Linked DNA regions of Homo sapiens. The protein of the gene in region 1 purifies or fractionates together with the protein of each later gene. This does not show direct contact. Each region holds a gene or a part of one and is shown on either strand. Other genes may lie near its edges.

The links.
Region 2: the proteins of LRRC36 (region 1) and ZNF548 purify together in Homo sapiens (affinity purification with mass spectrometry; one large-scale study listed by BioGRID and IntAct). This does not show direct contact.
Region 3: the proteins of LRRC36 (region 1) and GOLGA3 purify together in Homo sapiens (affinity purification with mass spectrometry; one large-scale study listed by BioGRID and IntAct). This does not show direct contact.

Annotation. Positions count from the first base shown.
Region 1 is NC_000016.10:67,378,790-67,382,385, forward strand, and holds part of LRRC36 (leucine-rich repeat-containing protein 36), read left to right. Parts: intron 1-2,637; coding exon of another isoform or gene 2,638-2,705; exon of another isoform or gene 2,706-2,741; intron 2,742-3,343; coding exon 3,344-3,458; intron 3,459-3,596.
Region 2 is NC_000019.10:57,392,828-57,396,478, forward strand, and holds part of ZNF548 (zinc finger protein 548), read left to right. Parts: intron 1-1,360; coding exon 1,361-1,396; intron 1,397-3,651. UniProt on the Homo sapiens protein: May be involved in transcriptional regulation.
Region 3 is NC_000012.12:132,818,794-132,822,444, forward strand, and holds part of GOLGA3 (golgin subfamily A member 3), read right to left. Parts: intron 3,519-3,651; 5' UTR 3,336-3,518; coding exon 3,203-3,335; intron 1-3,202. UniProt on the Homo sapiens protein: Golgi auto-antigen; probably involved in maintaining Golgi structure.

The DNA.
Region 1 (3,596 bases):
CATCATGCTAGCTCACGTGGCTGCCTTTGGCCTACTTGGTCATCAGTTTTCCTGGCAGTTAACAGAAACAATCATCTTGCCTCAGAGAATTGTAATGCAGGTGGCTTGAGTTACCAGATGAAGCTCTTGTCAGTGGAAAGCATGTACAAATGTTGTTACTATTGCCATTAATTTTGAGAATGACACATGCTTTTGTGATTATAACACCAAGAACATGTTCTTTATACAAAGTTTGGAAAATACAAGGAAAATATAACCCCATGATCCAGCAATAACTTCCATTAGTGTTTTTGGTATATTTTCTTCTACCATACCTCTCTATATTTTTAACTCCAAATTTACAATTGTGGCTGGGCAGGTGCAGTGGCTCACACCTGCAATCCCAGCACTTTGGGAGGACAAAGCAGGAGGATTGACTGAGTCCAGGAGTTGAGACCAGTCTGGGAAACATAGTGAGAATCCGTCTTTACAAAAAATAAGAAATTAGCCAGGCATAGTGGTGTGCACCTATAGAGCCAAAGAGGCTGAGGCAGAAGGATCACTTGAGCCCAGCAGTTCAAGGTTAGAGTAAGCCTTGATCATGCCACTGCAATCCAGCCTGGGTGAAAGAGAGACCCTGTCTCAAGAAAAATAATAATAAAAATAGGCCGGGTGCAGTGGCTCATTCCTGTAATCCCAGCACTTTGGGAGGCCAACGTGGGCGGATCACTTGAGCTCAGGAGTTCAAGACCAGCCTGGCCAACATGGTGAAACCCTGTCTCTACTAAAAATACAAAAATTAGCTGCGCGTGGTGGCAAGTCCCTGTAATCCCAGCTACTCGGGAGGCTGAGGTAGCAGAATTGCTTGAACCCAGGAGGCAGAGGTTGCAATGAGCTGAGCACTCCAGCCTAGGCAACAGAGCAAGACTCCCTCTCAAAAAATAATAATAATAAAACTGTGTCCTGGTTTTAAAAAATAATTTACATATAATTAGATGCACACATTTTAAGTTTGATCTCAATCAAAATACAGAACATTTCTAGAAAGTTTCTTCATACCTTCGTGTAGTCAGTTTCCCCTACTCTTGACCTCAAGTAATCACAGACCTGATTTCTACATCCTAATGTTATTAATTTCATAGTGTAGGCATTTCTACAGTATCACAAGAATATACCATATTTATCTATTTTGTCCTCTATATAGTTGTTTTTATAATGGTTATATAATATTTAGAATAAAATGATTTTAAATTATTTCTAAACATTCAAAAGAAAGACCTGAAGTGAAGGAAAAGACCCTAGAATCAAATGCTTTTCTGAGATTAACCTTCTTCCCTTTTGATGGAGCTGAGAGTCCTAATATTTAATATTTATACTATTATAAATAATGCTGCTATTAATGTCTATGTACAGAAATCTTTGTGTACATTTCAGACTATTTTCCTAGGAGACAGTCCTAGAAGTAGAATTAGTGAGTCAAAGGATGGGATATTTTTGAGGCTTTTGTTACATAAATCACTCCCAAGAAAATTGTTTCAGTTTACTCCCACCTCAGCAGTGTACTTGAATGCCCCTTTCACTCCCCTCTGCCAACACTGGGCATTTTTTCAAATTTTGCCATTGTGATAAGTGAAAAATAATATCCTTTTTAAATCTTGATTGTACTACTTTATTATCAGCATAGTTTAGGCCAGTATGTTAGATAAAGTTTGCGCTTGACAGACTAGCTTAGCACCCCTAAGCAAATTATGGGTACATGGATTTATACAAGGAACTTGATTTCAAAGTTCTGATGTGGAAGCACTGAATTTCCATTGTTAAATCTCAGCACTAAATAAATAAATAATTCTCAGCACTATCTGATACTCACAGGCCCGAATAATCAAGATATCAGTCTCCACTTACCTACTTTGAAATTAAAAGTAGGTATTTGTCCACTAGATACTTACTTTCATTCAGCCAGGAGGCCCAGTATAGTATTTTGGCTTACTGGTGATAAATAAGCTTTTGCAGCCTTGTTTTCCACCTTCTAGAACTCTCCTACTCAAGATGTGATCCACATTAGTATCACCTGGGAGCTTGCTAAACAAGTGGGGCCTCACCTCAGACCTACTGCATTAAAATCTATTTTTAGCAAGATCCCCAGGTGATTTGTAAGCATATTACAGTTTAAGGCTGGGCACAGTGGCTCACGCCTGTAATCCCAACACTTTGGGAGGCTGGGGTGGGTGGATCACCTGAGGTCAGGAGTTTGAGACCAGCCTGGCAAACATGGTGAAACCCCATCTCTACTAAAAATACAAAAATTAGCAGGGCGTGGTGGCATGTGCCTATAATCCCAGCTACTCAGGAGGCTGAAGCAGGAGAATTGCTTGAACCCAGGAGGTGGAGGTTGCAGTGAGCTGAGATCCCGCCATTGCACTTCAGCCAGCCTGGGCAACAAGAACAAAACTCTGCCTCAGAAAAAAAAAAAAAAAAAAAAAAAAGTTTAAGTATAGAAGATTGGCATCATTACAACCGGAGTTCCTCTTCTTTTACCTCCTTATTATTGCAGGTAATGGTAGTATATTGGGGAAGCTAGGTATAAGTGTCTTAGCCACAAATTCAGTTTCTACAAGTATTAATTGAGTTATTACTGTGTGCCTGACACCATTCTAGATGTTTTCACATACTACGTAGGGAGTGAAGGATGTACAAAACAAACTAAAATGGAGAATACGGTGTGAGACCCAATATCTATTGACTGCCTATGCTAAGTGAGGGTAGGTGTCTCATTGAATCCTCATAACAGGGCTAAGGGGCAGGGTTATTAGCTCTAATGAAAGTCAGAAAAATGAACCAACATGTGCAATATTTTTTTTTTTGAGACGGAGTCTCACTCTGTTGCCCAGGCTGGAGTGCAGTGGCACAATCTGTGCTCACTGCTACCTCCATCCCATCTCCTGGGTTCAAGCGATTCTCTGCCTCAGCCTCTCGAGCAGCTGGAATTACAGGTGCCCACCACCACACCCAGCTAATTGTCGTATTTTTAGGAGAGACGGGGTTTCACCATCTTGGCCAGGCTGGTCCTGAACTCCTGACCTTGTGATCCACCCGCCTCAGCCTCCCAAAGTGCTGGGATTACAGGCGTGAGCCACCGTGCCTGGCCCACGTGCAATATTAAGTGGCTGAATTTTAACTCATATCTGTTGCCAAACCCTGTATTCTTGCCACCATATCTCCTATCTCCAAGTAAGGCAATGGAGTGTGAAGTTGGGTGCCATGGGGCCCCCAGTTCTCAAGATGTCCATCTGAATACTTATATTCTGCTCAAAGACTAGCAGCTTGGAATCCTTTTCACCCCTGGCTACTGTGCCCTTTGTAGATGATCTTCTGCACAAAAACCAACAGCTGACCATGCAGGTGGCTTGCCTGAACCAGGAGCTTGCCCAGCTGAAAAAGCTGGAGAAGACAGTTGCCATTCTCCATGAAAGTCAGAGGTAGGAGAGGGTCTATCTAGCTTGCTTCTAGAAGCAGATATTTACTCCTTTTATCTCCTTTGTTTTGCTTGGAAAGTTAATATCTATGCACTTTGCAAGTGAACTCCATTCTGTGTGTAAACCTCCTGTATCTGGCCA
Region 2 (3,651 bases), on another chromosome or scaffold:
GCTGAGACTTGGGGGCCAGACCATTGGTGGCTCCACAGACATCATACTCTGTCCAGAACGGTGCAGACCTGGCATAACAGGGATTCTGGATTGCATCTGTAAAAAGGGAGGCCTGGACTGGGTAAGCATATGGCCTGGGATGGAGGCTGAAGTGTGAGGTGGTTTCGATCCTGCACCTGCAGGCTTGGTTGACCCTCAGGGCCACTCTCTGTTGAACAAGAGAAATGTTATTGAGGCTGGTGGAGTAGCTGGGTTCCAGATCAGAGCACTGCTTTTTCCCCTTCTCTACATGTCAGGGCTACAGGGGATGATCTACTGCTCCAGCCAAGGTCTCCTGGCAAGCTCACTTTAGAAGATTATGTAGCAGGTAGACCTGGTTGCAGAAAGGACCAGTACCTGACCTGCCTACTCTTCCCTTCTCTATAACTCATTAACTTAATAATGTATGAAACACTTATTGATTTAAACCCCAATTAGACAGTATCTTTCTAAGTGTGTGCAAACAGATAGGCAGTTAATAGTGAAGTCATTATGTTAAATTTCTAAAAGTGAGCCGGGTGTGGTGGCTCACACCTGTAATCCCAGCACTTTGGGAGGCCGAGGTGGGTGGATCACCTGTGGTCGGGAGTTCGAGACCAGCCTGACCAACATGGAGAAACCCTGTCTCTACTAAAAATACAAAATTAGCCGGGTGTGGTGGCGCATGCCTGTAATCCCAGCTTCTCAGGAGGCTGAGGCAGGCGAATTGCTTGAAAACAGGAGGCGGAGGTTGCAGTGAGCCAAGACCACGCCATTGCACTCCAGCCTGGGCAAGAAGAGCAAAACTCTGTCTCACAATAGAGGAGAGGAGAGGGGAGGGGAGGGGAGGGCAGAGGAGGGGAGGGGGGAGGGCAGGGGAGGGGAGGGGAGAAAGTGGTTCATAATTGGTTTGATGTTAATTTATCTCGTTTGCTTTCCTTGGAAAAAGTTAATATCGCATCCTCTAAAATCTTAAGCTAAAAACATACATGAAAATTTCAAAACCCCACTCTTTCATTTGCATTGAACTCATGTACAAAACCATTAATCTTGGACCATAGCCGCTGATATATATAGTACATGCTACTGATGTTTGATACTAATATGAGCCCTGTGAGGGGGCAGCTATTCTTGCAATCTATTTACAGATGGAGACACTGAAGCTCAGGTGGGTTTGGTTCTTTTCCATGGTCACAGAGCTGCAGCACTGAGGCCTGAGGAACTTTATTCAATGAATTGAGATCAGTTTGCTCCCAGGCAGGGCAGACGAGGTGGTGGTCCATCTCAGCCTGAAGGATCCTTCCATGGCTGTCAATTTCTCACGGCCTTTCTCTTCCCTCAGGGTCCCCTGGCGATGGCAGAAATGGACCCTACACAGGTGAGTAGAGTGTTTCCTACTATTCACCCACCCTGGTTATCTCCCAGATGGTTTTGGCAGGTGACAAAACCTCTTTTCCTGTCTTTCTCTTATGTCTGAAGGGTGAGTGGTTTCACCAGTTAGTTTCAGTATTACAAGTTGGCTGCTGGGTTACATAGACTGGTCCCCGTTTTTGAGAATTGATCTGATAAGATATGTTTGGGCCTCTTGGGCACAGGATTCAGAATGTTTCAATGTTTGGAGGAGAGACTGAGCTAGGTTTTTAGGGAACTGCAAATGTCTGTTACATCTGGTAGGAATACGGAGCAGAATGGGAGGTGGCTAGAGGCACACAAACATCAGGCCTGGAATGACAGCCTAGGTCCTGGGTCTGTAATCTAAGGGAAGTGGGAGACGGGGAAGATTTGAAGCAAAATAGGTAGTGATAGGACCCCAGTTTAAGAGACTTTCTTTGGCTTCTGAGTGGAGGACAGACTGTGGAGGTGAGGGTAATGGAAGGGAGATCTGAGAGGATGTTCCTGCAGCAGTCTAGGTGGATGTTGGTGGTGGCTTGTCAAGAGTGGTCATAGCTTCAGTTTTAACTAGAGCTGCCCACATTTTATGATACAGAGAGTGAGGCAGCTGGGGAGGTGGGATAGAAGGGGAATCAGGAGTGGCCCCATGGTTTTTGTTTGGAAGCATAGATGCTCCATCAGCTAAGATGGGAGAAGTCAGCAGTATTAGGAATTTTCAGAGTGAGTGTGAGGAGTCAGTGTTTGTTCAAGCCACAGATGTCTCAGAGACTCCTGATGGAGGAGTTCAGGTTGGAGATGTCCACACTATGGTGGCTGTCGTATGGACCAGGATGAAGCCATGGATTCAGTTTAGGTGACAGCATCTCTAGGTTATGGTGGCAGTGCTGTTCGAAGACAGAGAATTGGAATGGGGCATGAGAACTGGGTCTCTTACTGGGTAGCTGTGCAGTGGTGGAGGAGTCACTAGACAAATGAGGGAATGGAGTGTTTGTGGGGATGAGTGTATGTGAGATGGTGGGGTATAGGAGTGAGAAAGACTTCTGAAGGAGAGTGGACATGATGGGGTTGCTGAGGGGGGATAATAGGGTGAGGTCGGAGAGTTGCTAACTATCAGTTGGGAGGAGGTGAGGATGGGAGTTGTATTAATCCGTTTCCATACTGCTGTAAAGAACTACCTGAGACTGGGTAATTTATGAAGAAAAGAGGTTTAACCAACTCACAGTTCTTCAGGCTTAACAGGAAGCATAACTGGGAGGCCTCAGGAAACACAATCCTGGCGGAAGGTGAAGGGGAAGCGAGGCACATCTTCCCATGATGGAGCAGGAGAGAGGGAGAGAATGAAGGGGGAAGAGCCAAACACTTTTAAACAACCAGATCTCGTGAGAACTTACTATTATGAGAAAGGCAAGGGGAAAATATGCCCTCATGATCCAGTCACATCCCACCAGGTCCCTCCCCTGACACGTGGGGATTACAATTTGACATGAGATTTGGGTGGGGACACAGAGCCAAACCATATCAGGAGTGGAAATATGGAGGTCAGTGCAGCTGGGCTTGGAATGAGGTTTTGGTGGAGAGCAATTTTCCTGACTGTTTATGGGACAGAGTGTACCATGAGGCAGGACACAGCTGAGAGTATGGGAAGTCCTCACATGGTTTGGGCAGCTGACAGTGAAGTGAGAAACAGGGCCGTGTAGGGAACCTTCAACCCAGGGCTTAGGGCTGCCCCCGGTGCTAGGGGACTTTGGTGTTCTGGGGCAGGACTGGGAATGAATTGGATGCTGAGCGTATTTGCCGTGCACCACCTGGTTTCCGTGTGCAGAGTGGCCTGTTAGGAGGTGAAGGAAATGCCTGTGGTGTGGGCTGGGAGTTGTCTGTGGAATTGACTGGAGTGGAGGTGTGAGAGATGGGATTGGAGTGCTGTCCAAAGAGTGATGTGCAGGCAGGAGGAGTGTGAATGGAGGGCCTCAGGCCCTGGCCCTGGTAGCTCAAGGGAGGAGGATGAGTCTGAGTTTGGTTGTCTTGGGAGGCAAGATCTGGGTGACTCCATGGCAACTGGCTGGCAGGAGAGGATGGATCCCCCCACGGGAGGCCCACATTCCTTTTCTACCTTATCTTCCATCTGTTTCCTCTGTGTGCTGGACACGGTGGCCAATGTCAATATGGAGAGAAAAGTCACTCATGCCACCTGGATGTGGTTTCTCTTCCACATTGGGAGGGTGTGGAAGAGATTGAGCAAGG
Region 3 (3,651 bases), on another chromosome or scaffold:
TCACACCACCCGTGAAGCAGAGACAGCCCAGAACCGCGCTTCTGCTTGATGACAGCCTGCTGGGTAAAGGCCTGGGTTGGACCAGTGACAATTCTATACCCACGTGTTACCTCAGTTCACCCACTAAAATGATTATATACAAATTACCCACAACACAAACTAAAACATATTTCCTCATCAAATGGAACAAAGAAAGATTTCTTTCAATGAAGTGATTTTCAGTCTTTTCCCTGCCCCCTAACTGCTGACTGGTGGGTGGGCCAGTTCACAGTCAAAGAACCAAGACATGTGAGGGGGGAGGGAGGGTCCTCAGGGGGTTCTGGTCCTGGTTCCGGTGGCTCTGGAGGCCCGGCAACACCTCCGTGTCTCACAGGGGTCAGCATTCCTCGGATCCCACGTGCATGCAGGACAGCAAATTTGCTTTTTGCTCAAGCAAATTAAAAATGAGTTTCTTAGCCGGGCGCGGTGGCTCACGCCTGTAATCCCAGCACTTTGGGAAGCTGAGGCAGGTGGATCACGAGGTCAGGAGATCGAGACTATCCTGGCTAACACGGCGAAACCCCGTCTCTACTAAAAATACAAAGACTTAGCTGGGCGTGGTGGCGGGCGCCTATAGTCCCAGCTACTTGGGAGGCTGAGGCAGAAGAATGGCGTGAACCCTCGAAGTGGAGCTTGCAGTAAGCTGAGGTCGTGCCACTGCACTCCAGTCTGGGCAACAGAGCGAGACTCCGTCTCAAAAAAAGAAAAGGTTTCTTTCACTTGCAAATGTGAGTTCAAACTAACAGCAGATACTTACTGTCATGCCTCCCGAAAGAAAAACCAGAATAAAAGCAGGGGTGCCAGACAGGAAGCCAGACCACGGGCACCCGACCAACGCACTGAGACGCCTTTCATGCAAAGGACCCGTGAGCTCCACTGCTGGGAGAGGGGGAACCTTGCATTTCAGATAAAAGTTACTGGGTTAGGCCGGGCGCAGTGGCTCACACCTGTAATCCCAGCACTTTGGGAGGCCGAGGTGGAAGGATAACTCAAGGCCAGGAATTCAAGACCAGCCCGGGCAACAGCAAGACTGTTTATACAAAAAGTTTTTAAAATGAGCCAGGCAACAGGGCGCGGTGGCTCACGCCTGCAATCCCAGCACTTTGGGAGGCCAAGGTGGGGGGATCACCAGAGATTGGGAGTTCAAAACCAGCCTGATCAACATGGAAACTCCATCTCTACTAAAAATACAAAATTAGCTGGGCGTGGTGGCACATGCCTGTAATCCCAGCTACTCAGGAGGCTGAGGCAGAAGATCGCTTGAACCCGGGAGGCGGAGGTTGCCATGAGCCGAGATCGCACCATTGCACTACAGCCTGGACAACAACAGCAAAACTCCGTCTCAAAAAAAAAAAAATCAGCTAGGCGTGCTGACACGCATCGATAGTCACCGCTACCCCAGAGACCAAGGCAGGAGGATCACTTAAGCCCAGGAGTTCATGGCTGCCGTGAGCTATGATTACACCACTGCACTTCAGCCTGCTCAATGGAGCAACACCCTGACTCTAAAAACAGTAATAAAATGTTTAAAATAGAAAAAGGGGCGGAGGCTGAGATTAACCCAGCGTCTTGCTCGAGGGCACATTGCTCCTGAGCAGCAGATCTAAGAGCAGGTTCCACGGCCGCGGGTCTCAGAACTCTTGATCTTGGGCCTCTAAGTTGTTATCTGCCTCACCTGATGCTTATGTAGCAAGGACCAGCAAAGCCATCCTAAGCGCCTGAGTATCATTTTACAGGAATTAGACTGTGACTTCTGCTAGTAAATTAGCACATCTGTAGTCTACAGTTTTAAAGCACTGAACCTCCTGGCCAGGAAGAGGCATGAGAACTGAGTGAATAACTAAGTCACCCTTTCCCTCTGACACGTGAATAACCCAGGGGGCTAACATAACACTGTGCTCCGTAATCCTTAGATCTCTACGGGACGACTTCTGAATTCTAGCTATTACAAATTCAGCAACTGACCAATCAAAAAGGCAGAATTCGGCCAGGCACAGTGGCTCACTCCTGTAATCCCAGCACTTTTTGGGGCTGAGGTGGGTGGATCATTTGAGATCAGGAGTTCGAGACCAGCCTGGCCAACATGGTGAAACCCCGTCTCTACTAAAAATACAAAAAATAGCTGGGTGTGGTGGCAGGTGCCTGTAGTCCCAGCTACTCGGGAGGCTGAAGCAGGAGAATCGCTTGAACCCAGGAGGCAGAGGTTGCAGTGAGCTGAGATGGTGCCACTGCACTCCAGCCTGGGCGACAGAACAGGACACCGTCTCAAAAAAAAAAAAAAAAAAAAAAAATGGCTGGGCGCAGTGGCTCACGCCTGTAATCTCAGCACTTTGGGATGCCAAGGTGGGCGGATCACCTGAGGTTGGGAGTTCGTGGCCAGCCTGACCAACATGGAGAAACCTCATCTCTACTAAAAATACAAAAAATAGCTGGGCGTGGTAGCGCATGCCTGTAATCCCAGCTACTCGGGAGGCTGAGGCAGAAGAATTGCTTGAACCCGGGAAGTGGAGGTTGCAGTGAAACGAGATCTCGCCATTGCACTCCAGCCCGGGCACCCAGAGCAAAACTCCACGTCGAAAAAAAAAAAAGGTAGAATTTTAGGCAGGGAACATGATAAAGACCCATAGATCCCTTCAGGGAAACACTGCTGCTGCCCCACACGTTTAATGGAGTTCTGTTTAGCAGGAATGTGCCTGATCTAAAGGTGGCATCATTCAGTTACTAAAACATACTTTGGGCCGGGCACAGTGGCTCACACCTGTAATCCCAGCACTTTGAGGCTGAGGCTGAGGCGGGCGGATCACGAAGTCAGGAGATCGAGACCATCTTGGCTAACACGGTGAAACCCCGTCTCTACTAAAAATACAAAAAATTAGCCGGGCGCGGTGGCGGGCGCCTGTAATCCCAGCTACTCAGGAGGCTGGGGCAAGAGAATGGCATGAACCCGGGAGGCGGAGCTTGCAGCGAGCCGAGATCACGCCACTGCAGTCCAGCCTGGGCGAAAGAGCGAGACTCCGTCTCAAAAAAAAAAAAAAAAAAAAACAACTTTGAATTAAGTGAAAAGCTCACAGTGGTCTCAACGCCACATCCTCCCTCAACACCACGTCCTCCCTCAACACCAGGTCCTCCTGTGACCAGCACACAGAGGAACCTCACGACTTACACTGGACTTTGTCCTGCTGGTCAGGTGGCACCAGTGGGCCCGGGGGCTTCAGTGGGGCCTCGGGGAGAGACGAGGGGCCACTGTGGGATCTGTCCTCCTGGAGGCCATCTTGCTCGGCCGACGCGCCGTCCATGGTCAGGACGACACCAGCTGAGCTGACGCTGAGGGGCTACAAGTGAACCTTGGACAAGCTTGGCTTCTGCCATCAGCAACAGCCAAGAGCTCCTGGGAGGGGCCCTACTGTGTCTCCCATTTTCAGGAGAAGATCTGATGACTCACAAATGACTTGATGTCAAACCAGCTAATATCATGATACCTGACAGGAGAGAGAGACAAAATGTATTATGAAACTTGTCAGATTTCAAGTATCAATTACAAAATTAGCATTTGGTTCCCAATTTGCATACGTACAAGAAACAAATACAAACTTTTTCATTCAGCAAATAATC